Linked DNA regions of Homo sapiens: regions 1, 3 and 4 are each linked to region 2. The links come from fine-mapping of genetic effects on gene expression. A gene starts in region 2. Each other region holds a variant in brackets. All regions are shown on one strand. Distances are from middle to middle.

The links. PIP is the estimated chance that this variant, and not a neighbour inherited with it, causes the effect.
Region 1: its variant is fine-mapped to the expression of MYO1F in whole blood (TOPMed, PIP 0.90).
Region 3: its variant is fine-mapped to the expression of MYO1F in whole blood (TOPMed, PIP 0.98).
Region 4: its variant is fine-mapped to the expression of MYO1F in whole blood (TOPMed, PIP above 0.99).

The regions. Positions count from the first base shown.
Region 1 is chr19:8,544,629-8,551,036 of GRCh38, forward strand. It overlaps MYO1F (myosin IF), which reads right to left. Exons shown (of 28, transcript NM_012335.4): 9 at 5,934-6,066; 10 at 5,532-5,728; 11 at 3,609-3,689; 12 at 3,408-3,494; 13 at 1,022-1,108. LOC124904633 (a long non-coding RNA gene) reads left to right here. Exons shown (of 3, transcript XR_007067131.1): 3 at 1,457-2,697. Among named protein-coding and RNA genes, the nearest start is that of MYO1F, 30 kb to the right of the region's middle. The variant T/C (reference allele first, on the strand shown) is at 3,970.
Region 2 is chr19:8,573,553-8,581,524 of GRCh38, forward strand. MYO1F (myosin IF) reads right to left here and starts at 3,890. Exons shown (of 28, transcript NM_012335.4): 1 at 3,755-3,890. The coding sequence starts at 3,757. It overlaps ADAMTS10 (ADAM metallopeptidase with thrombospondin type 1 motif 10), which reads right to left. Exons shown (of 26, transcript NM_030957.4): 26 at 6,688-7,450. The coding sequence ends at 7,341. RefSeq lists enhancers at 2,335-2,394, 2,735-2,794, 2,965-3,144 and silencers at 3,265-3,314, 3,852-4,001, 5,222-5,416, 7,228-7,277.
Region 3 is chr19:8,530,344-8,538,315 of GRCh38, forward strand. It overlaps MYO1F (myosin IF), which reads right to left. Exons shown (of 28, transcript NM_012335.4): 17 at 6,606-6,712; 18 at 6,156-6,254; 19 at 5,909-6,053; 20 at 116-230; 21 at 1-22. All of the region lies in intron 1 of LOC124904633 (a long non-coding RNA gene), which reads left to right. Among named protein-coding and RNA genes, the nearest start is that of ZNF414, 20 kb to the left of the region's middle. The variant T/C (reference allele first, on the strand shown) is at 2,401.
Region 4 is chr19:8,521,487-8,529,458 of GRCh38, forward strand. MYO1F (myosin IF) reads right to left here. Exons shown (of 28, transcript NM_012335.4): 22 at 5,852-5,997; 23 at 5,303-5,449; 24 at 4,967-5,115; 25 at 3,993-4,076; 26 at 1,148-1,343; 27 at 891-1,060; 28 at 1-118. The coding sequence ends at 42. It overlaps LOC124904633 (a long non-coding RNA gene), which reads left to right and starts at 4,959. Exons shown (of 3, transcript XR_007067131.1): 1 at 4,959-5,058. RefSeq lists enhancers at 1,191-1,690, 4,267-5,242 and a silencer at 4,147-4,226. The variant G/C (reference allele first, on the strand shown) is at 5,673.

The DNA of each region.
Region 1 (6,408 bases), 30 kb before region 2:
GTTGCAGGGGTCAGGGATGGAAGGGATAGGGGGGCAAGGGTGTGTGGGGCTACTGTGGAAGCTCGCTGAGGTGCAGAAGTGGGTGGGGACCCCTCAAGAGATTCAGGCCCCAGACTAGAATCCCTTGGTAGGGGGACCTGCCTTATGTATTTATTTATTTATTTAGAGACGGAGTCTTGCTCTCTTGCCCAGGCTGGAGAGCAGTGGCGTGATCTCAGCTCACTGCAGCCTCCATCTCCCAGGTTCGAGTGATTCTCCTGCTTCAGCCTCCTGAGTAGCTGGGATTACAGGCATGCCGCCACCATGCCCGGCTAATTTTTGTATTTTTTAGTAGAGATGGGGTTTCACCATGTTGGCCAGGCTGGTTTCGAACTCTTGGCCTCAGGTGATCCACCTGCCTTGGCCTCCCAAAGTGCTGGGATTACAGGCATGAGCCACCATGTCCCGCCTAAATACGTCTTAAATTTAATTTTTTTTGAGACAGGGTCTTGTTCTGTTCCTCAGGCTGGAGTGTGGTGGTGCAATCATAGCTCACTGCACCCTTGACTTCCTGGGCTCAAGTGATCCTCCCACCTCAGCCTTCCGGGTAGCTGGGATTACAGGCGCCTGCCACCACGCCTGGCTAATTTTTTGTATTTTTAGTAGAGACAGGTTTTCACCATATTGGTCAGGCTGGTCTCGAACTCCTGACCTCAGGTGATCCGCCCACCTTGGCCTCCCAAAGTGCTGGGATTACAGGCGTGAGCCACCGGCATGGAATCTGCAAATTTGACTCTAACTGTGAGCTGGGGTTCCCGGGGAAATGTTTATTGAATGATTAAGTGAAAGGTGGACAAGTAGGCGGAATGAATGGATGAGGGGCGGAAGGGACATTTTGGTTGTTATCTGTCGCTGGAAGTCCTGAGTGTAGGGTAGAGAAGGGCCTGAGGATGCCATAACACCCTTGGCCCTCCCCCTCATCTTCCAGACTCAGCTCAGGGGACCAGTGAGACGCCCCCGCCAAAGTTGACCCAGCCCTCACCAGCTTGTTTTCGATGAGGTCACAGACGACCTTGTTGTTGAAGTACTGGATTGGAGTCCAGCGGATGCCTTCCTGCACATACTCCTCCTGGGGTGGAAAAGGGGGTGGATGTGGGGGCCAGTGAAAAAGTTGTGGCCACCCTTCCCCCCATGTCCTCTCCCCTTCTCCATCTCATCACTTAGGACTGTCTCTGGTAACAAAGCCCGTCACTCCTATGTGGGCAAGGCTGGAAGTGCCAGGGAATTACATCTGGTTTCAGCAGTCCTTGACCAATAATCAACAGGAGTGGGTGGATAAATACCCCAGCTCCCTCGCTTCTCCGCTCTATGAAGCCTCCTCGAGTCCCAGTGCAGTTGCATTCCGGTTGTCCACAGCATAACGTGCTCATTAACACACTATTTTGACTCTTTTTTTTTTTTTTTTTTTTTTTTTGAGATGGAGTTTCACTCCTGTTGCCTAGGCTGGAGTGCAATGGCACGATCTTGGCTCATCGCAACCTCCGCCTCCCGAGTTCAAGCGATTCTCCTGCCTCAGCCTCCCGAGAAGCTGGGATTACAGGTATGTGCCACCACGCCGGACTAATTTTGTATTTTTAGTAGAGATGGGGTTTCTCCATGTTGGTCAGGCTGGTCTCGAACTCCCAACCTCAGGACATCTGCCCACCTCGGCCTCCCAAAGTGCTGGGATTACAGGCATGAGCCACCGCACACAGCTTGCTTTTTTTTTTTGAGACCGGGTTTTGCTCTGTTACCCAGGCTGGAACTCAGCGATGCGATCCTAGCTCACTGCAACCTTGACCTCCAGGGTTCAAGTGATCCTCTCATCTCAGCCTTCCGAGTAGCTGGGACCGTAGGAGCACACCACCATGCCTGGCTAATTTTTATGTTTTTTGTAGAGATGAGGTCTCACTATGTTGTCCAGGCTGGCTTTGAACCCCCAGGCTCAAGCGATCCTCTTAACTTAGCCTCCTAGATAGCTGGGACTATAGGTGTGAGTGATTGTGTCTGGCTCGGTCTGTCTCTCTCTTTTTTTCTTTTCTTTTTTGAGACAGGGTCTCATTCTGCTGTTGCCCAGGCTGGAGTGCAATGGCACAATCTCGACTCACTACAAGCTCTGCCTCCTGGGTTCAAGCAATTCTCCTGCCTCAGACTCCTGAGTAGCTGGGATTACAGGTGCCCAGCACCACACCTGGCTAAGTTTTATATTTTTAGTAGAGATGGGGTTTCACCATGTTGGCCAGGCTGGTCTCAAACTCCTGACCTCAGGTGATCCACCCACCTCAGCCTCCCAAAGTGCTGGGATTACAGGCGTGAGCCACTGCACCCAGCCTCTCTCTCTCTCTTTGTTAAAAAAATCCCTGTCTCAGGACTGGGCATATTAACTCATGCCTGTAGTCCCAGCACTTTGGCAGGCCAAGGCAGGAGGATTGCTTGAGGCCAGGAGTTCAAGACCAATCTGGGCAACAAAGTGAAACACCAACTCTACAAAAAAGTTTTAAAATATTAGCCAGGCATGATGGTGTGTGCCTGCGGTCCCAGCTACTTGAGAGGCTGAAGTGGGAGGATTGCTTGAGCCCAGGAGGTGTAGACTGCAGTGACCTGTGATCACACCACTGCACTCCAGCCTGGACAACAGAGCGAGTTCCTGTCTCAAAAAAAAAAAAAAAAAAAAAAAAGCGGGGAATGGTGGCTCCCATCTGTAATCCCAGCACTTTGGGAGGCTGAGGTGGGTGGATCACGAGGTCAGGAGTTTGAGACCAGTCTGGCCAATATGATGAAACCCTGTCTCTACTAAAAATACAAAAATTAGCTGGGCATGGTGGTGGGTGCCTGTAGTCCCAGCTGCTCGGGAGGCTGAGGCAGGAGAATCACTTGAACTCTGGAGGCGGAGGTTGCAGTGAGCCGAGATCATGCCACTGCACTCCAGCCTGGGTGACAGAACGAGACTTTGTCTCAAAAAAAAAAAAAAAAATCCCTGACTTACTTCCTCAGTCTCCTCTTGGAGCTTCCTGGGATTGCCTCCCAGAAAAACCATTTGTCTCTGAATCCTTGCCTCAGGCTCTGCTTCTGGGGGAGGGGCAAAATGAAGACAGCAGGGACTATTGCCTTATTGTTCATGGCTGTGTCTCCAAGCACCCTAAACAGTACCTGGCACACAACAGGTGCTCAATAAATAATTGCTGAATGAATGAACTAAGAGGCACGGTCCTTCCCAAAGCTTTAGAGGCAGAAGGAAGTATCACTATGGAGCCTGGGTAGGTTGGCACAGAGAGGTGGGAACGCGGTGGGGAGGGCTGGGGTGTCCCCTAGTTGCTAAGGGATCCTCATGGTCCTTCCACCCCACCCCCACCCCAGGATCCCCCATCCCTGACTGCTTGGCCGCCCACCTGCTCGGCCTTCAGGGTAAGTTCGATAAAGATTTGCTGCAGCTTCTCATTGACGAAGTTGATGCAAAACTGCTCGAAGCCATTTTTCTGCAGAAGGAGGAAAAGGGTCCTTCCCTCAATGTCCTGGTGCTGGAAGTTCTTGTGGCCACCCTGGGCTGCCCCAGGGAGGACAGGATGTGGGCTGGAGGCAGGGGGCCGTACCTGGAAGATCTCGAAGCCGTAAATGTCCAGCACACCGATGCTGTACTCTTCCTGGGGTTTCTGCATAGCACGGTTGATGGCCTGCGGTGTGGGTGGGGACAGGAAGTCAGTGGGCATCGGTCAGATCTGAAGCCCCTGCCCACCACTCCTTAGACACACGCCTAGCCAACTTCATGGGTGATGTCCCCTCATGCCAGTTTCCCTCCAGCCCTCTTTAGCTCTGCCCTTCCTGGCTCTGTGTACAGTCTCCCCACCCCATAATCAGTCACTCAGAGGAGAAACCCAAGTGTCAGTGTATCAGGGTCCCTGACTCCAGAGCTGACTCTGCCCCTGAACCTCTCTGCACCTCTATTTTCTTTTT[T/C]TTTTTTTCTTTTTTTTTTTTGAGACGGAGTCTCACTCTGTCGCCCAGGCTGGAGTGCAGTGGCATGATCTCGGCTCACTGCAAGCTCCGCCTCCAGGGTTCACACCATTCTCCTGCCTCAGCCTCCCAAGTAGCTGGAACTACAAGGGCCTGCCACCACGCCCGGCTAATTTTTTGTATTTTTAGTAGAGACGGGGTTTCACTGTGGTCTCGATCTCCTGACCTCGTGATCCGCCCGCCTCGGCCTCCCAAAGTGCCGGGATTACAGGTGTGAGCCACTGCGCCCGGCCTTGCACCTCTATTTTCTTATCTTTAAAAGGGGTTGATAATAGCAACTACCTTATGGGGCTTTTTCTTTTCTATTTTTTTTGAGATGGAGTCTCATTCTGTTGCCCAGGCTGGAATGCCAGTGGCGCAATCTCGGCTCACTGAAACCTCTGCCTCCAGGATTCAAGAGATTCTTCTGCCTCAGCCTCCCAAGTAGCTGGGATTACAGGCATGCGCCACCACGCCCGGCTAATTCTTGTATTTTTAGTAGAGACGGGGTTTTGCCATGCTGGCCAGGGCTGATCTTGAACTCCTGACCTTGGGTGATCTGCCCGCTTTGACCTCCCAAAGTGCTGGGATTACAGGCATGAGCCACTGCACCTGGCCATACATTTTATACTTTATTTATTTTTATTTTTTATTTTGAGACAGGGTCTCAGTCTGTTGTCCAGGCTGGAGTGTAGTGGCTTGATCATGGCTCACTACAGCCTCAACCTCCTGGGGTCAGGGATTCTTCCACCTCAGCCTCCTGAGTAGCCGGGATTACAGGCACCAGCCACCATGCCCGGCTAATTTTTGTATTTTTGTAGAGACAGGGTTTTGCCATGTTGCCCAGGCTGACTCCATACATTAAAAAAGTTTTTATTTTATTTATTTATTTATTTTGAGACAGAGTCTCTCTCTGTTGCCCAGGCTGGAATACAATAGCACGATCTCAGCTCACTGCAACCTCCACCTCCCAGGTTCAAGTGATTCTCCTCCCTCAGCCTCCCAAGTAGCTGGGATTAAAGGCATGTGCCACCACTCCCGGGTAATTTTTAGTAGAGAGGGGGTTTCACCATGTTGGCCAGGCTGGTCTCAAACTCCAGACCTCAAGTGATCCATCCACCTCAGCCTCCCAAAGTGCTGGGATTACAGGCATGAGCCACTGCATCTGGCCAAAAGTTTTTTTTAGAGACAGGGTCTTGCTCTGTCACCCAGGCTGGAGTACAATAGCGCAATCATAGCTCACTGCAGCCCCAACCTCCTGGGTTCAAATGATCCCCCAACCTCAGCCCTCTGAGTAGCCAGAACTACACATGCACACCACTACACCCAACTAATTTGAAATTTCTGTAGAGATGGGGGTCTTGCTATGTTGCCCAGGCTGGTCTTGAACTTCTGGCCTCAAAGAATGCTCCCAACTCAGCCACCCAAAGCATTGGGATTGCAGCCGTGAGCCACTGCACTCAGCTTCCATAAATGTTTGTGACCCCAGAGCATCCACTCTGCCTTCCAGCCCCAGCCCCACTCGCCTCCACGAGGAAGTCGAAGAGGCGGGCATAGAGCCCCTTGGCCAGGGCATCACGGGTGTAGGCTGCCTGCTCCACGTTGAGGGTCACATTGATGGACTCGCTGCGCCCGCCCCAGCGGCTGTCCATCTTGCGGCTGGTCAGCTTCTCCTGCAGTCGCCCGCTGTCAATGCCCAGCAGGTAGGCGGGAAAGGCCAGGACTACCAGGGCAAAGGTCAGGGCAAAAATGGGACAGTTGGTTGGGCTCTTGTGCCTCCTGCATGGGCCTCCTATTATCCCCATCTTGCCCAGTGACACCCACATTTTTTTCCTCGTGGGCTTTCAGCTTCCTGGGGGCTGAGCTAGGAGGACGCAGTTCACCCACCCACAGGCCTCCATCCAGCCCTCCCTGATACCCACACTCACGGTCCACACTCTCCACTCGGGCGTAATTCCCGTCTTCACAGAAACTGATGTTCCCCAGGTGCAAGATCCCCGCCACGAGCTGCAGGACCAGCTGCTGGATGCTGGGCGGGATCCCAATAACCTGCATAGCACTCTGTGGTACAACGGGGGCAGAAACTGTGCCGTGAATCCTGGCCTCCAACCTGCCTCCAGGGGCAGGCTTGAGGGACCACAGCACGGACTCAGGGAGTGAGCACCCTTGGGTCCCTGTCCTACCCCTTTCAGTCACTTGCCGCGTGACCTTGGGTAAGTGCCTGCACCTCTCTGGGCTTTGTTTTTTATTATATTTTTTATTTTTGAGACAGAGTCTCCCTCTGTTGCCCAGGCTGGAGTGCAGTGGTATGATCTTGGCTCACTGCAACCTCCTCATCCCAGGTTCAAGCGATTTTCCTGCCTCCGCCTCCCGAGTAGCTGGGATTACAGGCGTGAGCGTCGT
Region 2 (7,972 bases):
CCACCATCTAGTCATCGGCCAGGCACAGTGGCTCACACCTGTAATCTCACACTTTGGGAGGCCAAAGCGGGTGGATCACTTGAGGTTAGGAGTTGGAGACCAGCCTGGCCAACATGGCGAAACCCCGTCTCCACTAAAAGCACAAAAATTAGCTGGGTGTGGTGGCAGGTGCTTGTAATCTCAGCTACTTGGGAGGCTGAGGCACGAGAATTGCTTGAAGCCAGGAGGTGGAGGTTGCAGTGAGCCGAGATTGCACCACTGCACTCCAGCCGGGGTGACAGAGCGAGACTCTGTCTCAGAAACAAAACAAAACAAAAAAACAATACTAGCCATCAACAACCACACATAACCAACTACCATTAGCAACCACAGAAAGCAGCAGTCACCAGTCCTATCCTGTTCAAAACCCAACATTGAACCAGCACCACCATTGCTGATCATCATCTTACCAGAAACCAACAATAAACTACCAGCAGCAAATGAACGCTACTACCAACACCTTTCCTCTCCAAATAACAGCAACCACCGATGGTCATCATTCCACTGGTCACCAAGCATCTCCAGAATTTCCAGCTGAAAACAATCCACCACCAACGAACAACATTAAACACCAACCGCCACCACCACCAGCCCACCTGCAAGAGCCATTATCACCACGAACCTGCAACAAGAAACAGCCACAACCACCACCACAACCAATGACACCAACAACCCAGCAATGACCACTCGCAGCAACTCCTCCCCAATTACCACAATCGTCACCTCCGTCCATCCTCATTGCTGAATCCAGAAATGAATGGACATCCCAGCTAATGGCAGCTACCATGGATCAAGTGCATGTTATGTGCTCTGTAAAGCAATGGTCCCCAACATTTTTGGCACCAGAGACCGGTTTAATGGAAGACAATTTTTCCATGGACCATGGAGCGGGGCATTAGATTTTCTTTTCTTTCTTTTCCTTTATTTCTTCTTTTTTCCCTTTCTTTCTTTCTTTCTTTCTTTCTTTCTTTCTTTCTTTCTTTCTTTCTCTCTCTCTCTCTCTCTCTTTCTTTCTTTCTTTCTTTCTTTCTTTCTTTCTTTCTTTCTTTCTTTCCTTTCTTTCTCTTTCTTCTTTCTCTCTTTCTTTCTTTCTTCCTTTCTCTTTCTCTCTTTCTTTCTTTTTCTTTCTCTTTCTTTCTTTCTTTTTCTTTCTTTCTTTCTCTCTCTCTTTCTTTTTTTTTTGAGATGGAGCCTCTCTCTGTGGCCCAGGCTGGAGTGCAGTGGCGTGATCTCGTCTCATTGCGACCTCTGCCTCCTGGGTTCAAGTGATTCTCCTATCTCAGGTTCCCGGGTAGCTGGGGTTACAGGCGCGCACCACCACGACTGGCTAATTTTTGTATTTTTAGTAGAGACAGGGTTTTGCCATGTTGGCCAGGCTGGTCTTGAACTCTTGACCTCAGGTGATCCGCCCACCTCGGCCTCCAAAAGTGTTGAGATTACAGGCATGAGCCACTGCACCCTGCCAACGGCATTAGATTTTCTTTTTCTTTTTTTTTTTTTTTTGAGACGGAGTCTGGCTCTGTCGCCGAGGCTGTAGTGCAATGGTGTGATCTTGGCTCACTGCAACCTCCGCCTCCCGGGTTCAAGCGATTCTCCTGCCTCAGCCTCCCGAGTAGCTAGGATGACAGGCATGTGCCACCACACCCAGCTCATTTTTGTATTTTTAGGAGAGACGGGGTCTCACCACGTTGGCCAGGATCGTTTCTATCTCTTGACTTCGTGATCTGCCCGCCTCGGCCTCCCAAAGTGCTAGGATTACAGGTGTGAGCCACCGCACCCGGCCGGGCATTAGATTGTCATAAGCAGCATGCAACCTGGATCCCTCGTGTGTGCAGTTCACAACAGGGTTTGCGATCCTGTGATAATCTAATGGCGCCCCCGAGAATCTGAGAGGAGGTGGAGCTCGGGCTTGCTTGCCTGCCACTCATCTCCTGCTCTGTGACCCGATAGGGCTCATGGTTTCTAACAGACAGACCATGGCCCGATAGCAGTCCATGACCCCGGGGGTTGGGGACCCTGTTGTAAAGGACTTCAGAAATACTGTTTCATTGAATCCTTCAGCGATCTTCCTGGCATTCACCACTCCTCCAGGAAGATTTCAGCATCCCCAGACAGAGGTGGGTGTCATTTTTTTCTCTTCTATCATCCTCTGCGATACGGGTGGCCCCTCCCAGACCTTGTCTGCCAAGCCGACTGTTGACTAAGCATTTTCAGAGGGCTTCCTTGGGGAGGGGTTGCCTTTCTTTCAAGTAGCAAATCACTTCCTGTGTTCTTTTGATCAAAGCCCTGCCCATCCCAGGACCTGAGCCTCCCTGGCTTGCTTCTCATCTTGGAAGAATTCCCACCCCAACAGTCTCAGAGCTCCAGCTGATGGTTTGGGTGTGAATTCCGGGATGCCCAATTTCTCATCAGCTTTCCTTTTTTGAGACGGAGTGTGCTCTGTCACCCAGGCTGGAGTGCAGCGGCAGGATCTCAGCTCACTGCACCCTCCGCCTCCTGGGTTCAAGTTATTCTCTTGCCTCAGCCTCATATGTAGCTGGGATTACAGGCGTGTGCCACCACGCCCAGTTAATTTTTTGTATTTTTTAGTAGAGACGAGGTTTCACCACGTTGGCCAGGCTGGTCTCGAACACCTGACCTCAAGTGATCTACCTGTCTCAGCCTCCTAAAATGCTGGGATTACAGGCATGAGCCACTGTCCCTGGCCCTCACTGGCTTCCTGAAAGAAGGTGTTGTCTCTCAGACTAACACCACCTCTGCCTCTTGCCCTATGTCCCTGACTCCACCCTAGTAAGCTGTACCTGCCAAGAATCCTGCAGTGGCCGCTGTCACAGCCACATGCTCTCATCCTCACTGACTGAATGACGAGAAATGAAAGCTGAAGTGGTCTACACAGCAGAGAGCTGTGGGGTGGGGTCAGCCCTGGCCACCTCTTACTTTGCGTCTTATGGTGGTACGATACTGCTAGGAATAGCGCCATGATCACGACAGTCTCCCCGTTGCTATCATCGACAGACCTCAGACTTGACAGGCAGCAACACCTCTGGCTGCCATCCTCCTCTTGGGATAAGGGATGCCCACCAAAGGGTGGCATGGACGTATTCAGCCTCTCCTGCCTCTGCTGCAGCCATACCGCCCGTCACCGGCACAGGGAGGGCGTCAATCCACCCCATCGCTTGTTAGACATAGCTTCCCATCTCAGCCGAGGACTCTGTGGCAGAACCCACAGACCTTGAGAATGTTGCAACTGAAAGACCCCTGAAGAGCAACTTCCGCATCTAGACGGATTTCCAAATATGACATCTGTGGGAACCGGGGCCAAGAGAGGGGAAGTGACTAGCCCAAGGCTACACAGGGAGACGAGAGACTGGGCTGGACTGGGAAAGGGCTCCCTTAATTTGCAAGCAAAGGAGGCTATGTCCTTGTCCCTGCAGACTCTGTGATTCTCCCTGGGCCACCTTCTGTCTTCCAGGTCCTGCCCTATCCTTGGATCCAGGGATACCACCCTGGCATCCCCACCACCTACAGATGGGAGCTTGCTCCCTGGTAAGGGATGCTGGAGGCACCTGAGCTGCACTGAGAGACACCCCACCCCCACAGAAGTCCACCATGCCCCTCCCCTCACCCCAATTTCTGATGGTCATTTTTAGGACACCTCCACCTGGCTGGTGTCCCTCCTCTTTCTTCTTCCAGATCCCACCCTTGAAGGACTTACCATGGTGGGGGGCTGGTGTCTGGGCTCCTGGAGGCTCCTGAATGGGTCGTGATGGAGGTGCAGGTTCAGGGGGATCTTGGGGGTGGCTTGGGCATGGCCCTGCTTCTGCCCGTTCACCGGACTCCCGGCTTTAGTTCCTCTTACAACAGCCCCTTCTCACTTCCTTTGGCGGGAGGGGCCGAGGCCATGGGGGAGGGAAGCTGGGTGTGGAGGGGGGCGGGGAGCTGGCTGTTTGGGGCTCTGAGCCTGAAGGGAGGGGTCAGAACTTGATGGCAGCCACTACTGGACCTCAGAGGCCTCTTCCCCAACTCCTTGGGGACAGGGCTGCTGCAGGAACATTTGGGTCAGCTGGCTGCAGGACGAACCACCTCTTTTCAGGGCGATTCAGGAAGCATTTGGGCTTCCCGGGTCTCTTTTTAAAACCAAGGAAGGGGCCCAGGGGAGGTGGCTCACGCCTGTAATCCCAATACTTTGGGGGGCCAAGGTTGGAGGATCGCTTGAGTCCAGGAGTTTGAGACCAGCCTGGGCTATATAGCATGACCCCATCTCTACAAAAAATGAAAAGAAAAAAAATTAGCTGGGCATGGTGGCATGAGCCTGCAGTCCCAGCTACTCAGAGGGCTGAGGTGGGAGGATTGCTTGAACCTGGGAGGTGGAGGCCTCAGTGAGCCCTGATTGCGCCACTGCACTCCAGCCTGGGCGAAAGAGTGAGACCCTGTCTCTAAAAACAAACCAGAAAAAACAAAAAAACCAAAAAAACAACAACAACAGGGAAGGGTGCCTTCTTCAGCTGTGTCTGCTCTGGGCATCCCTGGGCAACCTCCTTCATTATTATTATTGTTATTATTTTGAGACGGAGTCTAGCTCTGTCACCCAGGCTAGAATGCAGTGGTGCAATCTCAGCTTACTTTAATCTCCGCCTCCTGGGTTCAAGCGATTCTCCTGCCTCAGCCTCCTGAGTAGCTGGGATTACAGGTGCCCACCGCCACACCTGGCTAATATTTGTATTTTTAGTAGAGACGGAATTTCGCCATGTTGGCCAGGCCGGCCTTGAACTCCTGACCTCAGGTGATCCTCCCAACTCGGCCTCCCAAAGTGCTGGGATTACAGGCATAAGCCACCACGCCTGGCCCAACCTCCCTCTTTAGATGACCCTCAGAAGTCACACGTGTTTGTGTGCAGAAGTGGAGGGTACTGGGAAGCAGGTGCATCTGAAAGGTCCCTGACTTTGGATGTCACATCTAGATTTAACAGCCTCCAGTTTGGCTACTTCCTGGATGACTTAGTTACTCCCTTTTCTCATTGTAAAATGGGAACGTGGGTCCCCCCAGCAGAGCCTGGCCCAGGTACGTGTCAGCCTATGAGCTGGTCTTTGGGACACCAGCCAACCACCTGAGGCTCCTCTTGACATGTGAGGAAATGGCAGTTCTAATAGGTTGTTACTTCCCCACACCACCCAGCAAGGAGGTGGCCGAGGCAGGACCCGACCCTGGGAGACCCTGGGGGACCCATGTTCAGATCTATCTTTGGTCCAGGGCGATAAACCCGCATCCCCCTTGAAGATGTTAATATGCAGCGCCCCTAGTGGCCACAGCTGGGAAGGAGCCCGTCTCTGCTGGAATCTCCTGAGCGAGTTTGCAGAATTGACGGGCTTGGGGCATGCAATTCTCAGCAATGTCTCCAGGCACTCAAGAGTGAATATGAATGGGTAAGAGGACCCCACTTTGTTGGGGGCCATCAGGGGAGGCTTCTAGGAAGAGGCAACGTTTGTGCTGACACCGGCGAGTAAGCTGGAGTTAAAAAAGGTAAAGGGGCAGGAGCGTGCACCTGGCCATGCTAAGCGCTCAAGCAAAGGCCCAGATATGGGAAAACCATAGGGCAATTGAGGAAGTTCGGGGAGGCTGGTGTGGCTGGAGCATGCGGAGTGACGGAGAGTGTGATGGCCAGGGTGGCAGGTGCTAGACCGTGTGGCTTTAAGAGCCTCTGTGAGGGCCAGGCATGGTGGCTGATGCCTGTAATCCCAGAACTTTGGGAGGCTGAGGTGGGAGGATCGCTTGAGCCCAGGAGTTCCAGACCAGCTTGGGCAACATAGCAAGACCTCGTCTCTACAAAAAATTAAAAAATCAGCTAGGTGTGCTGTTGCACCTATAATCTCAGTTACTTGGCAGGGTAGGCAGGAGAATCGTTTAAGCCCAGGAGTTCAAGGCTGCAGTGAGCTGAGATCGTGCCACTGAACTCCAGCCTGGGCTACAGAGTGAGACCCTGTCTCAAAAAACAAAAACAAAAAAGCAAAACCCTTCCACGAGAAGCTGTTGTACTTTTCTCCTAAAATCCCTGGGTTCCTGTCTGCAATGTTAAAAGTCCCCTTCTGGCTGGGCACGGTGGCCCATGCCTGTAATCCCAGCACTCTGGGAGGCCGAGGCGGGCAGATCACGAGGTCAGGAGATCGAGACCATCCTGGCTAACACGGTGAAACCCCGTCTCTACTAAAAAAGTACAAAAAATTAGCTGGGCATGTTGGCGGGCGCCTGTAGTGCCAGCTACTCGGGAGGCTGAGGCGAGAATGGCATGAACCCAGGAGGCGGAGCTTGCAGTGAGCCGAGATCGTGCCACTGCACTCCAGCCTGGGCAACAGTGCAAGACTCCGTCTCAAAAAAAAAAAAAAATAAAAAAAAAAAATAAATAAATCAGCTGGGTGTGGTCGTGCACGCCTGTAGTCCCAGCTATTCAGAAGGTGGAAGTGGGAGGATCACTTGAGTCCAGGAGATCAAGGCTGCAGTGAGCTATGATAGGCATAGCTGGGCGACAGGGACCGTCTCAGGAAAAAAAAAAAAGAAGTCCCCTTTTGGCTGTTGGGTAGACCTGGGAGAATGGGTGGTCCTTTCCAGACCTGGGTGGGGGCTACTGGATGCACTGACACACACACACCGCAATTCGTAGAAATCTACACAAGACAGAACTTTATTGATGTAGGGCTTCCTGGCAGGAGTGTGTGGGCCCCAGGGCAGGGTCTGTAGCACCATGAGGGGGTGGCCTGGATGTCGGGGTGCCCCTGGGGCGGGCAGGGCAGAGGTTGGGGTGGATCCTCCCCCTAGTCAGGTCAGGGGAGGGTGTCAGGGAGGTGGTGCTACCCCCCCCCCTCCCATAGCAGACACAGATTCCCCCCCAGCTCGGAGTGGAGGGGTAGGGCAGTGCTGGGGGGCAGGGCACCGGCAGACCACCTCCCCACCCCTACTCTTCACAGTACATATTCCGATCAAAGGAGGGGGGGAGTGTTGGGGACTCCCTAAGGGTGGGTTCAAAGGGTGCTGGGGTGAACAGCTGTCCCCTCCCCAGACCCACCCTGGAGGGGGGGTCTCACTATGTGAACTGGAAGGGGCGGATGCTGAAGAGGGGCTCTGGGGGGATAGCCAGCCCCTCTCCATCCCCCCAGCCAGGGCCCTGCAGGGGTTCCCAATAAATAACTTCCGGCTCCGTCTCACCCTTCCCTCCCAGTTCCCGCCCCCCCGGGGCCCCCTCTGGCCGGCCCGCTGCAGGGCTGGCGGCGGAGACCCCGCCAGCTGTGGCTCCGGGTGCCGCGCGCCCCCTAGTGGCCATGGCAGGTTTTGCAGCACATCTGGCGGAAGTAGGCTCGGCTGCAGAACTGAAATTTGAGCACCAGGGGGCAGTAGGCGACCTTGTTCACATCCTTGCACTCTGCGGGGACGGGAGAAGGAAGGAAAAATCAGGTCTCAGCTGCCCTCCCCGCAGGGCTGCACACACGACCTGCAGTGCTTCCTGGCCAGTGACTTTCTGTGCCTTGGTTTCTTTCTTTTTAAATTTACTTTTTTTTTTTTTTTTTTTTTTTTTTTTTACAGATGTTATCTTGCTATGTTGACCAGGCTGGTCTCCACCTCTTGAGCTCAAGTGATCCTCTCACCTCAGCCTCCTAAGTAGTTGGGACTACAGGTGTGAGCAAACCACGCCTGACTTCTGTGCCTTAGTTTCCTCAACTATCAAAGGGGGCTTATAATAGCACCGATGTCACTAGGCTGTTTTGAGGATTTAAGAGAGAGAGTGTAGGGTTGGGGGCCAACACAGACACATTAGTAATGAGAAAAGGGCCGGGTACAGTGTATCATGCCTGTAATCCCAGCACTTTGGGAGACCAAGGCAGGAGGACTGCTTGAGCCCAGGAGTTTGAGACCAGCCTGGGCAACATAGTGAGAGCACTGCATC
Region 3 (7,972 bases), 43 kb before region 2:
TTGTTCAGCAGGATGTTGGAAGCTGCGGGGACAGAGGGTGGAGGGCAGAGCTCCTGATACAGCTCCTCCAGGTCCTTGTGCCCCCACCCCGCGCCGTTTACCCGAAGCCTCTCACCTTCCTCCCGCATCTCCTCGTACTTCCGGACAGCCACGTGGCGCCGCCAGGCCTTCTGGATGGTTCGGGCAAAGCCATCGAACTTTCGCTCTCGCACCTCCTCCAGGAGGAAAAGCTGGGCGGGGGTCGTGGGGGGCAAGGGTGAGTCCTGGTGTCTCCCCAGGGGCTGCAGTTCCGGGTTTTCCCTGCGCTCACCCTACTCACACGCTTTTGCTCACCCATCCCCACACATGTGCTAATTTTTTTAAGAGGCGGGGTCTTTCTAGTGACACTCGTTCATAAAGAAAAGAAGAAAAAGGGGCCGGGCGCAGTGGCTCACGCCTGTAATCCTAGCACTTCGGGAGGCCGAGGCGGGTGGATCACCTGAGGTCAGGAGTTTGAGACGAGCCTGACCGACATAGTGAAACCCCATCTCTACTAAAAATACAAAAAGAAATTAGCTGGGCATGGTGGTAGATGCCTGTGATCCCAGCTACTCGGGAGCCTGAGGCAGGAGAATCACTTGAACCCGGGAGGCGGAGGTTGCAGTGAGCTGAGATCGCGCCATTGCACTCCAGCCTGGACAACAAGAGTGAAACTCCATCTCAAAAAGACAAAAAACAAAAACAAAAAAAGCTGGTGGCTCATGCCTATAATCCCAGCGCCTTGGGAGGCTGAGGCGGGAAGATCGCCTGAGGTCGGGAGTTTGAGACCAGCCTGATCAACATGGAGAAACCCTGTCTTTACTAAAAACATAAAATTAGCCGGGCATGGTGGCACATGCCTGTAATACCAGCTACTCAGGAGGCTGAGGCAGGAGAATCACTTGAACCTGGGAGTTGGAGGTTGCGGTGAGCTGAGATTGTGCCATTGCACTCCAGCCTGGGCAACAAGAGCAAAACTTCATCTCAAAAAAAGAAAAAAAGAAAAAGACAGGGTCTCGCTCCGTCGCCCAGACTGGAGTGTGGTGGTGCAGTCATAGCTCACTGCAGCTTCAACCTCTTGGGTTCAAGTGATCCTCCCACCTCTGCCTCCTGAGTAGCTGGGACTACAGCTGTGAGCCACCATGCCCAGCTAATTTTGTGGTGATGTGGTCTTGCCATGTTGCCCAGGCTGGAAAAATTTTTATCTTCCTCCAAATGACTGGACCTCCCTGTGCGTCTCTCCCCATGTGGGGTACACACTTCTGCCTTACATGATAACAGTGAGTCACTAGCTTCAGATCACAGCTGTGCCACTTACTACCTGTGTGCTTTTGCAAGAAACGGTATGATGTCACGGTTTCTTACACTGTTACTCGACACTATCCACGAGGTACACTGCCGTGTCAGAGATGGTAGAAATAGGAACCAGTGTGCATCTTGGAAAACCAATAAAATACAGTAAATATGAAAATGTGGCCGGGTGCAGTGGCTCAAGCCTGTAATCCCAGCATTTTGGGAGGCCGAGGTGGGCGGATCACCTGAGGTCAAGAGTTTGAGACCAGCCTGGCCAACATGGTGAAACCCCGTCTCTACTAATAATACAAAAGTTAGCCGGGTGTGGTGGCGCATGCCTGTCATCCCAGCTACTCGGGAGGCTGAGGCAGGAGAATCGCTTGAACTCGGGAGGTGGTGGTTGCAGTGAGCGGAGATTGCGCCACTGCACTCCAGCCTGGGCGACAGAGTGAGACTCAGTCCCCCGACCCCTGAAAAAAGAAAAGAATGAAACTCCATCTCAAAAAAAAAAAGAAAGAAAAAGAAAATCTGATGTGTAGAACTGTGATGTGACTAGCAACCGTGTGGTTGGGCAGTGTACAACCTGCACAGCCATCCGTAGCAGGCCCAGAAAGGAAGCTTTTGCAGAAAGCAGAGAAAAGGGTTTTGAGTTGTAAAAGTCTAGACCCAGAGGGGACTTAGAGAATGAATTACATTACAGCAAGTCAAAGTACAAAGTCTAAGAGGAATGTCTACTCATTTGTAATAACAGCAGGTGAACAAGGTGAGGAACCTACTGGATATTAAAATACTGTAAATCTATAGTAATAAAAACAATAGCATGCCTGTCAGAGAATAGAATGATTAACTGGAATAGGGCAGATGCTTGAGAAACATCCTACTTCAAAGAGAAACTGTGATCAAAGGGACAATATTGTCAATTAGTGAAGATGGGAAATAATGCAAATATAGGCTGGGTGCGGTGGCTCATGCCTCTAATCCCAGCAGTTTGGGAGGCTAAGGTGGGAGCATTGTTGAGCCCAGGAGTTCAAGACCAGCCTGGGCAACATAGAAAGACCCCGTCTCTACAAAAACTAAGCAAAAATTAGC[T/C]GAGGGTGATGGCACGCATGTGTAGTCCCAGCTATTCCGGAGGGTGAGGTGGGAGGATTCTTTGAGCCCAGGAGGTTGAGGCTGCAGTGAGCTGTGATTGTGCGACTGCACTCCAGCCTGGGAGATAGAGTGAGATCCTGTCTCAGAAAAAAAAAAAAATACACACACACACACACACACACACACACACACACACACACACACACAATTGGGCTTTATTTAGAAAAATTAGCACTTCACCCAGAGTGCTTTCCCAAGTCCATAGGTAGCACATTGCTGCTAAGAGCCTTGCTCCCTGCTCTGCTGACCAAAATAGTTTTAATTTTTTCAGAGACAGGGTCTTGCTCTGTTTCCCAGGCTGGAGTGCAGTGGTGCGATCTCGGCTCCCGGGCTCAAGGGATCCTCCCACCTCAGCCACTCAAGGCTAATTATGGTATTATTATATATATATTTTTTTGGTAGAGAGGTAGAGTTGGGGTTTTGCCATGTTGTCCAGACTCGTCTGGAACTCCTGGGCTCAAGGAATCTACCAGCCTTGACCTCCCAAAGTGCTGGGATTACAGGCGTGAGCCAGCGTGCCCAGCCTCAGATTCTTCTTCTTCTTCTTCTTCTTCTTTTTTTTTTTTTTTGAGACGGAGTCTTGCTCTGTCGCTCAGGCTGGAGTGCAGTGGTGCGATCTTGGCTCACTGCAAGCTCCGTCTCCTGGGTTCACGCCATTCTCCTGCCTCAGCCTCCCGAGTAGCTGGGACTACAGGCGCCCGCCACCATGCCTGGCTAACTTTTTTGTATTTTTTTAGTAGAGACATAGTTTTGCTGTGTTAGCCAGGGTGGTCTCAATCTCCTGACCTCATGATCCGCCTGCCTCGGCCTCCCAAAGTGCTGGGAATTACAGGCGTGAGCCAGCACGCTTAGCCTCAGATTCTTCTTTAAAACCTTTAGAGAGTATGGCCATGCCAACACCTTGATTTTGGACTTCTGACCTGCGGAACTGTGAGAGAATAAATTGCTGTTGTGTTAAGCCATGGAGTTTGTGGAACTTTGTTTCAGCTGTCCCAGCAGACTATTATAACATACCTGGGATGCTGGGCCACAAAGGCCAACAGGCAGATAAAATGTTTGAGGATGGCCCAAACCATGTTCATAAGAAAATCAAAATAGGGGCCGGGCGCGGTGGCTCATGCATATAATCCCAGCACTTTGGGAGGCTGAGGTGGGCAGATCACTTGAGGTCAGGAGACCAGCCTGGCCAACAGGGTGAAAACCCATCTCTATTAAAAACACAAAAATTAGCCTGGTGTGGTGGCGGGTGCCTGTAATTCCAGCTACTTGGGAGGCTGAGGCAGGAGAATTGCTTGAACCAGGAAGGTGGAGGTTGCAGTGAGCCAAGATTGCGCCATTCCACTTTAGCCTGGGTGACAGAGCGAGACTCTGTCTAAAAAAAAAAAAAAAAATTCATCCCAACATGAATGCATTTTTGGTTGAGAAAGGCTCCAACTCCATTAAGCTAATTTAATTTCTTGATTACTTTTTAAATATAGCACAGTTAAACCGTTGGCTATTTTTCTTTTCTTTTCTTTTCTTTTTTTCAGAGTCTCACTTTGTCCCCCAGGCTGGAGTGCAGTGGCGCAATCTCAGCTCACTGCAACCTCTGCCTCCCAGGTTCGAGCAATTCTCCTGCCTCAGCCTCCCAGGTAGCTGGGATTACAGGCACGTGTCACCATGCCCGGCTTATTTTGTATTTTTAGTAGAGATGGGGTTTCCCCATGTTGGCCAGGCTGGTCTCGAACTCCTAACCTCAAGTGATCCACCACCCTGGCCTCCCAAAGTGCTGGGATTACAGTTGTGAGCCACCGTGCCTGGCCTTTTCTTCTATTTTCATTTTACTAATTTTTTTTTTTTTGAGATGGAGTCTCACTCTGTTGCCCAGGCTAGAGTGCAGTGGTGCGATCTCGGCTCACTGCAACCTCTGCCTCCTGGGTTTGAGTGATTCTCCTGCCTCAGCCTCCTGAGTAGCTGGGATTACAGGTGCGCACCACCACACTTGGCTAATTTTTTGTATTTGTAGAAGAGACGGGGTTTCACCATGTTGGTCGGGCTGGTCTTGAACTCCTGACCTCGTGATCCACTCGCCTCGGCTTCCCAAAGTGTTGAGATTATAGGCGTGAGCCACTGCACCCAGCTTATTTTACTAAAATTAAATTACTGTTGCCCAGGCTTGAGTGCAGTGGCACGATCTTGGCTCACTTCAGCCTCTGCCTCCTGGGTTAAAGTGATTTTCCTGCCTCAGCCTCCTGAGTAGCTGGTATTACAGGTGTGCACCACCACGCCCAGCTAATTTTTGTACTTTTAATAGAGAAGGGGTTTCACCATGTTGGCCAGGCTGGTCTCAAACTCCTGACCTCAAGTGATCCATCCACCTCAGCCTCCCAAATTGCTGAGATTACAGGTGTGAGCCAGTGCGCCTGGCCAGCAAGATTATTTTCATCAGGATTATTTTCTTTCTTTTATAAATATTCAGTCTGTCTTTGTTGTTGATGTTCTTATAGGATTTTACCACTAAGCATCTGCCATCGTGAATTTCATTATTTCTACCCCGTCCGTCTTCTCCAAATCAAAATCTATAGACTGAAATTTTTGTCTAAATTAAATTTTACTTTATATAGTCTTTGCTGGTGATAGTTATTTTTCTTTTTTCTTTTTGTCTTTTGTAGAGACAGGGTCTCACTATGTTTCCCAGGCTGGTCTCGAACTCCTGGCTTCAAACCATCCTCCTGCCTCAGCCTCCCAAAGCACTGATATTACAGGCATGCGCTACCACACCTGACTTGGTGCTAGTTTTATTTTGCCTTTTTTCTGTTCTATGTCAAAATTTTTGGTCTATTTCTTCCAGAGTGTCTCTCTCAATCTCTCTCTCTCAATCTCTCAATCACATTCTTTCTTTCTTTTTTTTTTTTGAGACGGAGTCTCGCTCTGTCGCCCAGGCTGGAGTGCAGTGGCGTGATCTCGGCTCACTGCAACCTCTGCCTCCTGGGTTCAAGCCATTCTTCTGCCTCAGCCTCCTGAGTAGCTGGGACCACAGGTGCCCGCCACCATGCCCGGCTAATTTTTTTTGTATTTTTAGTAGAGACGCGGTTTCACTGTGTTAGCCAGGATGGTCTCGATCTCCTGGCCTTGTGATCCGCCCTCCTCAGCCTCCCAAAGTGCTGGGATTACAGGCATGAGCCACCGCGCCCGGCAGTCGCAGTCTTTCTTAATCTCTCGCTCAGTCTCTCTCAGTCTCTTACTTTCAGTCTATTAATCTCTCACTTGCTTTCTCAATTTCTCTCTCAACCTCTATCTCAGTTTCTCTGTCAATCCCTCTCTCTCAATCTGTTTCTCAATTTCTCAATCTATCAGTCTTTCTCTCAATCTCTGTCTCCCTCTGTCTCTCTCTCTCTCTCTCAGTCCCTCTCTATACCTTTCTCTCTCTTCCCCTCTCCTTCTCTGCCTGTCCCTCAAACACACTCACCGACTCTGGGTTCTTGACAAAGACCTTGGTGCTCCCCATCTGGTACTGGTCGGGCTCCATGTTGACCGCCCGAAGCAGGTGCTGGACGCCCTGGCGTTCGTCCCCACGCCACCGCGGCCACGTCTCGGGGGTCAGAATGGCATACCTGAGGGCGGAGGGCTGGGGTGTGGGAGTGCTCATAGCAGACAGGCCTGGCTGGGCGTTCTGATGAAGGGGATGGCGAGGGCGGGGGTGGAGGGCTCCTCACCTCTGCAGGAATTTGGCGAACTGGCGGCGGTAGGCGAAGCCGGCTCTGCGCACCCTGATGTTCTCCTTCAGGCCCAGGTATTCCACCTGGTGCTTGACTCTGGTGGGGAGGGTAGGCTGAGTCCCCTCGGGGTGGGGAGTCACCAGTCCTGGGGGTGGGTGGGAGGTGCTGGAGGTGGGGGACCTGGGGGGATCTGGATTCATGCTGAGGGAAGTTTGGGGGGTGAGTTCTGTGGTCTGGGGGGGCTTCGGGGGTCAGCCTGGGGACTGGGGGGAGGGATCTTGTCCTGATGGTCCCTTCTGGGGTCAGTTCTGCAGGTGGGGGATTGTGGGAGGGGCTGTGCTAGTCCCTGGGTCATCCTACAGGAGGTCAGGGAGGTGTCTCGGTCAGTTCTAGGGGTAACTGCAGGGCCTGGGGGGAATGAATCTTGGATTGGTTGGGGGGGATCACCTGTTCTCCTCCCAGTCTCGGGGCCTCTTGGTCTCGTTGGGTTTGATGCAGCGGATGTAGTGGGGTGTGCACCTCATCAGTGTGGCCACCAGGTCGTTGGCTTGTTTCTGAGGCAGAAGTGAAGACGGGTGGGTGGGGGGCACAGAGATGGGACCCTCTGGCCCCTCTTTTTTCCACCCTGGATACAGTCCCAATAGACAGAGACTGGGGGTGGGTGAGGGCTGGTAACAGATAAGCCACAGGGGCCAGATGTCCCTGGTCTGTGTGCACCTCCACTAGTGCACACCACACTAGTGGGACTGATGTGGGGTGTCTGCCTGACCCTGGAACCCAAGACAAGGAGCTCTCACGTCTACCGCACTCACCACTTACCTTGGCACATAGTAAGTGCTCAGTAAATGTTTGTTGACTGAGTAACAGAGCCCTTATGAGAGCATTTCTTTTTGTCCTTTGGGGAGATAGGTACCTTGGGTGTTTGTTTTTTTTGTTTTGTTCTGTTTTATTTTGTTTTGAGATGGAATTTTGCTCTGTCACCCAGGCTGGAGCGCAATGGTGCCATCTTGGCTCACTGCAACCTCCACCACCTGGATCCAAGAGATCCTTCTGCCTCAGCCTCCCAAGTAGCTGGGATTACAGGCATGTGCCACCACACCCGGATAATTTTTAGTAGAGACAGGGTTTTGCCATGTTGGTCAGGCTGGTCATGAACTCCTGACCTCAGGTGATCCATCCACCTCTGGCTCCCAAGGTGTTGGGATTACAGGCATGAGCCACTATACCTGGCTGGGTGATTTTTTTTGAGACAGGGTCTCCCTCTGTCACTCAGGCTGGGGTATAGTGGCGCCGTGATAGTTCACTGTAGCCTCAGCCTCCTGTGCTCAAGCGATCAACTGCCTTAGCCTCCGGAGTAGCTAGGATTACAGGTCTGAGCCACTGTGCCTGGCTAAGACATGTACTTTGGAGGTAGGGAAACTGTGTGTATGCCTGAGAGGTTTGCCTTGGGTTTTGCATTTTGTTTTATTTTTATTTTTATTTTTATTTGGAGACAAAATCTCGCTCTGTTGCCAGGCTGGAGTGCAGTGGCATGATCTCGGCTCACTGCAACCTCCGTCTCCCAGGTTCAAGTGATTCTCCCACCTCAGCCTTCCGAGTAGCTGCCACCACACCCAGCTCCTTTTTTTTTATATATATATTTTTAGTAGAGACGGGGTTTCACCATGTTGGCTGGGCTGGTCTTCAACTCCTGACCTCAGGTGATCCACCTGCCTCAGCCTCCCAAAGTCCTGGGATTACAGGCTTGAGCCACTGTGCCTGGCTTGCATTTTTATTTTATTTTATTTTAGTATTTATTTATTAATTTATCTGAG
Region 4 (7,972 bases), 52 kb before region 2:
GATAGGCGGGCGAAAGAGAAGGCAGTATCCCAGGGCCCAGCTCAGATCTTCTCCACGTAGTTTCCTGGGAAAAGGCCCTCCTGGCCGTGAAGCCGGCCCTTCCACCAGCCCGAGGGATCTGTGGGAGAGAGGAAAGCTTGAGGTGCCCCTAGCTGGCCCTGGAGAAAGCTCTCATGCCTGGTCTGTCCATCTTGTTCATGGGGACTCCCTATGTTGTCCAGGCTGGTCTTAAACTCCTAGGCTTAAGCCATCCTCCTGCCTCAGCCTCCCAAAGTGCTGGAATTACAGGTGTGAGCCACTGCATCCGGCCATTTCTACTCTTTAAAAGTTTTTTTTTTGTAAATCTTTTGTAGAGATGGGGTCTTGCTAGGTTGCCCAGGCTTGTCTCAAACTCCTGACCTCAAGTGATCCTCCTGCCTCAGCCACTGAAAGTGCTGGGATTACAGGTATGAGCCACCTCGCCCATCTGTTATCTCTGTTCTCCCGTGGGGAGGGTGTGCAGTGGTGGGGTCTGCCTGGCAATGTCAGTCAGGGTTCTTTTTTTTTTTTTTTTTGAGACGGAGTCTCGCTCTATCGCCCAGGCTGGAGTGTGTTGGCGCAATCTCGGCTCACTGCAAGCTCCGCCTCCCGGGTTCATGCCATTCTCCTGCCTCAGCCTCCCGAGTAGCTGGGACTACAGGCGCCCGCCACCACGCCCGGCTAATTTTTTGTATTTTTAGTAGAGACGGGGTTTCACTGTGTTAGCCAGGATGGTCTCGATCTCCTGACCTCGTGATCTGCCCGCCTTGGCCTCCCAAAATGCTGGGATTACAGGCGTGAGCCACCGCGCCCGGCCGATGTCAGGGTTCTTACCACTCCCCTCACCCCAGCTTCTGCCCTGGTACACACACCTTCCATGAGGATCTCAATGACCTCGTTCACGTTGAAGCTCAGCTCGTCCACATCTTGGCCCACGTACTGGTATAGGGCCCGGCACCTGGGACCATGTGTCCGAGGCTGGGGCTTGGGTCGGCCCACACCAGGCACTGGCCGTTGCCCCACGCTGCGCTTCCTCTGCATGCTGTGGGCACAGGGGGTTTGAGTCACAGCCCCAGACACTCCCCTACCCCCTGCCCACCTCCTGGAGCTGCCCTCCCACCCCACCTACCCGGCCATGCCCTGGTCAGGCACGTTGAGGAATTCTGTGTTGTGCTCTGAGGGCGGACGTGCCCGGGGTCGTCTGCTGGCTCCCAGGGATGTGGACGGAGGGCCCCGGGGAGGCCTGTGGGTGCCCCCTCCAGACATGATCTCCAGGGGCAGGGGGCCCCCTCTGGCAGAGGGGGGCACCCCATTGCGATCCATGCCTGTGGCAGGAGCAAGGATGAAGACATGTATTAGGGTGATGCTAGGAGGATTTGAGGAGGACTTGGCTTCAAGTTCTCAGGCTGAGGGAGGAGACTGCGACACTCTCAACCCAGTGTGGTAAGGATTGGGCCAGACGGAGGGACTCTGCCGCTAGGAGGGCCTAGACAGAAGCTTTTTTAAGCATAATTTTAAAATTATTTTTTACTTTTTTTTTTTTTTGAGATGGAGTCTTGCTCAGTCGCTCAGGCTGGAGTGCAGTGGCGCGATCTCGGCTCACTGCAAGCTCCGCCTCCTGGGTTCACGCCATTCTCCTGCCTCAGCCTCCCGAGTAGCTGGGACTACAGGCACCTGCCACCACGCCTGGATAATTTTTTAAATATTTTTAGTAGAGACGGAGTTTCATCATGTTAGCCAGGATGGTCTCGATCTCCTGACCTTGTGATCCGCCCGCCTTGGCCTCCCAAAGTGCTGGGATTACAGGCATGAGCCACCGCGCCTGGCCAATTATTTTTTACTTTTATTTGTTTATTTTGAGACATGGTCTCACTCTCGCCCAGGTTGGAGTGCAGTGGTACAATCGTAGCTCACTGCAACTCTGACCTCCTGGGCTCAAGCAATCCTCCCTCCTTAGCCTCCTTTTAAGGGGAGCTGGGACTACAGGTATGCTCCACTATGCCCAGTTGATTTTTATAATTTTTAAAGTAGAGATGGGGTCTCACTATGTTGCTCAGGCTGGTCTCAAACTCCTGGCCTCAAGCAATCCTCCCACTTCGGCCTCCCAACATGCTGGTTTTACAGGCATGAGCCACTGTACTTGGCCTTATTTATTTTTTATTTGTTTAGAGACAGGGTTTTGCTCTGTGGCCCAGGATGGAGTGCAGCAGTGAGATCATAGCTCACTGCAGACTCCAACTCTTAGGCTCATGATATTCTCCCCTCTCAGCCTCCTAAATAGCTGGGACTATAGGCACACACCACCATGCCCAGCTAATTTAAAAAGAATTTTTAGGCTAGGCGCGGTGGCTCACGCCTGTAATCCTAGCACTTTGGGAGGCTAAGGTGGGCTGATCACGAGGTCTGGAGTTTGAGACAAGCCTGGCCAACATAGTGAAACTCTGCCTCTACTAAAAATACAAAAATTAGCCAGGCATGATGGCGTGTGCCTGTAGTCCCAGCTACTCGGGAGGCTGAGGCAGGAGAATTGCTTCAACCTGGGAGGTGGAGGTTACAGTGAGCCAAGATCACGCCACTGCACTCCAGCCTGGGCAACAGAGCAAGACACCGTCTCAAAAAAAAAAAAAAAAAAAAGGCCGGGCGCGGTGGCTCACACCTGTAATCCCAGCAGTTTGGGAGGCCGAGGCGGGTGGATCACGAGGTCAGGAGTTCCAGACCAGTCTGGCCAACATGGTGAAACCTTGTCTCTACTAAAGATAAAATTAGCTGGGCATGGTGGTGCATGCCTGTAATCCCAGCTACTGGGGAGGCTGAGGCAGGAGAATCTCTTGAACCCAGAAGGTGGAAAGTTGCAGTGCGCTGAGACCGCACCATTGCACCCCAGCCTGGGCAACAGGGCTAGACTCTGTCTCAAAAAAAAAAAAAAAAAAAAAATCTAGGCGTGGTAGCACACGCCTGTAGTCCCAGCTACTCAGGGGGCTGAGGCAGGAGAATCGCTTGAACCCAGGAGGTGGATGTTGCAGTGAGCCAAGATCATGCCACTGCACTCCAGCCTGGGTGACAGAGCGAGACTGTCTCAAAAAAAAAAAAAAAAAGAAAGAATTTTTGGTAGAGACAGGATCTTGCTATGTTGCCCAGGCTGATCTTGAACTCAAGTGATCCTCCTGCCTTGGCCTACCAAGAGTGCTTGGATTACAGGTGTGAGCCATCTTGCCTGGCCAGGAGTGGCTTTGCAGGGGCAAGTTTCCCTCCTCCTATCCTCTGTAGGAGAGCTTCTGTGGGTACGTCTTGGTGGATAAATAAGAGCTCAACGAATGGAATGGGAATTTGAGAGAGAAGCAGAGAAAACGGCCCAAAGGCCTGGAGGTAAGAATAAATTTTGTGAATTGGGAAAATAAGATGTAGTTTGAGGCCAGGCGCCGTAGCTCATGCTTGTTAATCCCAGCACTTTCGGAGGCCGAGACGGGCGGGTCACCTGAGGTCAGGAGTTCGAGACCAGCCTGAACAACGTGGTGAAACCCTGTCTCTACTAAAACGATACAAAAATTAGCCGGGCGTGGTGGCGGGTGCCTGTAATCTCAGCTACTCGGGAGGCTGAGGCAGGAGAATCGCTTGAATCCAGGAGGTGAAGGTTGCAGTGAACCGAGATCGCTCCACTGCACCCCAGCCTGGGAGACAGAGTTGGACTCCATCTCAAAAAAAAAAAAAAAAAAAAAAAGATGTAGTTTACAGGGCAGGAGTGTAGGGTAGGAGGAGAGAAGATGTCAGTGGTTAGCTGGGTTTGGGTTTTGAAGGGCTCTGAATGCCAAACTAAGTTTAGCCTTTATTCTGCGGGAGATGTGGAGCTACGGAGAGTCCTGGACAGAGAAGTGAGTGGTAAACTGTGTTTGTTAGATTTCGTTTGCTGAAGGTCTGGCTTAGGCCATGGGACCCACAACAGACAAGGGAATATAGCAAGGGACGCAGCTCCTCACCTCTGGGGGGCGCAGGGGCCGCCCGGGTAGGGGCTTGGGACGACCTCCGAGGTTTTCCCTTGGCCATTCCCTTCCGCGTAGGCTCTGAAAGAAGAGTGTCAGGGAGTTGAATGACAGACAGACCACGCTCTTTGCCCCGCCCACAAATCTAGTCCATTCTGAGGCTCCGCCGCACCCCGCCCCCTCAGGCTCTCCCATTAGCACCGCCCCTTAGGTACAGTTACACTGGCTCCGCCCACTAATTGGCCTCGCCCCCCAAGGGCCCAACACCTCACTGGCCTTGCTCTTTGGGCCCGCCCACTTTAGGTCACTCCTTCATCACTACCCAGTTCCAGGGTTGCCGCTCTGGCCGCACCCCTCTACATTTCTCGCCCCCGCATTGGTCATGTCTTCTCCTTAACAGTCTTTCTCTCTCTCTAGACCCGCCCCTTCCTTGCTGTTGCCCTCTCTGGTCCAGCCTGCTGGCCCCGCCCCACTATTTTGATTGGTTTCCTCCATGGCCACGTCCCTCCTCCACATTTCACGCCCACTAATTGGTTGCGGCCTTTGTTTAAAAGTCTGTCTCTCTGGCCGGGCGCAGTGGCTCACGCCTGTAATCCCAGCACTTTGGGAGGCCGAGGCGGGTGGAGCATGAGGTAATGAGTTCAAGACCAGCCTGGCCAAGATGGTGAAACCCCGTCTCTACTAAAACTACAAAAATTAGCTGGGCGCGGTGGCAGGCGCCTGTAATCCCAGCTACTCGGGAGGCTGAGGCAAGACAATCGCTTGAACCCGGGTGGCGGAGGTTGCGGTGAGCCAAGATCGTGCCACAACACTCCAGCCTGGGCGACAGAGTGAGACTCCGTCTTAAAAAAACCACAAAACTCAAAAGTCTCTCTCTCTCTCTCTGTAGACACTCCCCTTCCTGGCCTTCGTCCACTCTTAACCAGCCTCGCTGGCCCCGCCCCCTCTGCCCTAGTTCCGCGCAGACTCACTGGAGCTCTTGGGCAGCCCATCGCCCACGCTGACCGTGAGGGTCCGACCGCCAACCTTGAGCACTGCCAAGTCGCCGAAGCCGCGGGAGAAGGTGACGCTGCGGGTGCCGCCACCGCCCCAGCCCTCCTTCTTCACCCGAAACTGTAGTCTATGGGGAGAGAAGAAAGCTTGGGGGCGCTGGCTGAGGTCCCCCGCCCCACCCAACTCTCGCTGGTTGGGGCAGGGGCGGGGCCGCGGCCGGGGCCGAAGCGCAGTTCGGCCGGGTCGGTGGGGCGGGAGAGGGTGCGCCGCGCCGAGACCACCCCGAGATGGTGCTGGGGTTGGCGGGGCCGTACGTGTCGCTGAAGGTGAGGGGCAGGGGCCTCCGCGTCGCCTCCTCGAAGCGCTTGCACAGAAGGCTGACAAACTCGGTCTTGAAGACGCTCTCCAGGAAGCTGTCGGCGGCATCCTCTTGGAGGATGAAGAAGTCGTCCTGTCGCGTGCTGGGGAGGGGCGGGTGAGAGCGTCAGGTGGGACACAGGTGAGGGCGACAGGTGAGAGAGACAGATGAAGGTGGCTGAAGGTGGATTTAGGGAAGGGTCAGCTAAGGGCCAAGTCAGCGGTGACCAGGTAGGAGAAAAAGGGGGATGTGGCAAGGAGTGGAAGAGGTGGTTACAGAAGAGGGCCAGGTGAGGTCTAGTAAGAGGGTAAGGTGCAGGACGGAAG[G/C]ATTTGGCATCTAAGGATCATGAGCATAGGGGGCAGGTGAACATGACAGGTGGGGCCAACAGAGGGCTACAGGCATGGCACCAGGTAAGATTGTCAGGGTAACAGACGGGGTCACTAGAATGAGGGCAGCCAGGGGACAGGTGAGAGTGACTGTGCGGCAGGTAAGGACCTGGCTTCACCTGAGGGAGACTCCCCGCAGAGCCTGGATGTCCACTTTCTTCTTCAAGACTTCACACACCTGGCCCTTCTCAGGTCCCTTCTTCACTTTCTCTCGCCCAATCACATACACACACTTGGGCGTCAGGATCAAGTCCCGCTTGATGGGCTGTGGGGATGCAGGATTAGAGGCTGATGCCTGTAGCCTGGCCAGCCTGGCCACAGAGGATCCACCCCAGGCAGAGGGGTGGTGCTGGCAGGTCAGGTGAGGAAGGTGGGAGCCCTCCAGGTGAAGGTGTATGAGTCGTCTGTTTTGTAGACAGGGTCTCACTCTGTCGCTCAGGCTGGAGTGCAGTGGTGCCATCATAGCTCACTGCAACCTCCCCCTCCTGGGCTTGAGTGATCCACCTGCCTCAGCCTCCTGAGTAGCTGGGACCACAGGTGCGCACCACCATGCCCAGCTAATTTTGGTATTTTTTGTAGATTCAGGGTTTTGCCCTGTTGCCCAGGCTGGTCTTGAGCTCCTGATCTCAAGCAAACTGTCCTCCTTGGCCTCCCAAAGGGTTGGGATTACAGGTGTGCGCCACCACGCCTGGCCATGAGTTGTTATATAAGAAACAGAAGGAGGGCTGGGTGCCATGGCTCACGCCTGTAATCCCAGCATTTTGGGAGGCCGAGGCGGGCAGATCATGAGGTCAGGAGTTTGAAACCAGGCTGACCAACATGGTGAAACCCCGTCTCTACTAAAAATACAAAAATTAGCTGGGCGAGGTGGTGGGCACCTGTAGTCCCAGCTACTCAGGAGGCTGAGACAGGAGAATCGCTTGAACCCAGGAGGATGAGGTTGCAGTGAGCCGAGATCCTGCCACTGCACTCCAGCCTGGGTGACAGAGCAAGACCCTGTCTCAAAAACAAACAAACAAAAAATAACAGATCAGGCGCGGTGGCACACGCCTGTAATCCCAGCACTTTGGGAGGCTGAGGTGGGTGGATCACAAGGTCAGAAGATTGAGACCATCCTGGCTAATACCATGAAACCCCATCTCTACTAAAAATACAAAAAACTAGCTGGGCGTGGTGGCACATGCCTGTAGTCCCAGCTACTCGGGAGGCTGAGGCAGGAGAATTGCTTGAGCCTGGGAGGCAGAGGTTGCAGTGAGCCGAGGTTGTGCCACTGCACTCCAGCCTGGGCGACATAACAAGATTCTGACTCAACACACACACACAAAAGAGCAAAACTCTGTCTCAAAAAAACAAAAAAGAAAAACAAAAAAGAAACGAGGTCAGATGGGAATGTGTTGGTTGGTTGGTTGGCTAGAAAAGGGTGTTTGGGTCAGTGAACAGGTGCTGGGTAGGTAAGGCACCTGCTGGACATGGGTTCCCGGGCCAGATGAGAACACTTAGACCAGGTGAAAGTACTTGGGTCATGTGACTGTAGCCAGCTCAGGTAAAGGTATTATGGTTCAGGTGAGGGTGTACAAGTCAGGTAAATAGGAGTATCTGGATCATGAGAGGAAGTGAGCGGGTGTGTATCTGAACTCTATGAGTTTGTACAGGAAGGCAGGTGAGGGTGTACCTGGTAGAAGGGTGAATGTGCAAGCCGGTTGAGCTGGCCTGCGGTCAGAGTTCTCTGGGTCTAGTGGGGATACCTGTCTCAGTGAAAACATTTAAGGTGATGGTATACAGGTCACCTGAGAGGGCATACCTGCCACACAGACCTGTCCAAAGCAGGTGGGTGGATCAGGTGAAGGTACCCAATAATGTGTGTCTGGTATGTGAAGTTGTACAGATCATGTGAGGAGGCACCTGCCACATAAACTTGTCCAAGGTAGGTGAGGGTGTCCAGGCCATATGAGACTATCCATCCAGGTAAAGATGGTATATAGGTGATCTCAGTGTGTACCTGCCACACATAGGCCTCTCTAAGGTGAGGGTAGGGTGAGTTACTGGGCTAGGTGACTCTCTGGGACATGAGATATGGGTCAAGTGAGTGTGTACCTGGCCCGCCCAGGTACAGGTGACGGTAAACAGGCCAAGTCTGGGTGTACCTGTGGACAGGAGAGTCCAGGCTAGGTGATTAGAGTACACGTAGGTTCAGGGCTGTCTGGGGCAGAAGAGGATGTGTCTGTTGGTGGAGGTGCCCA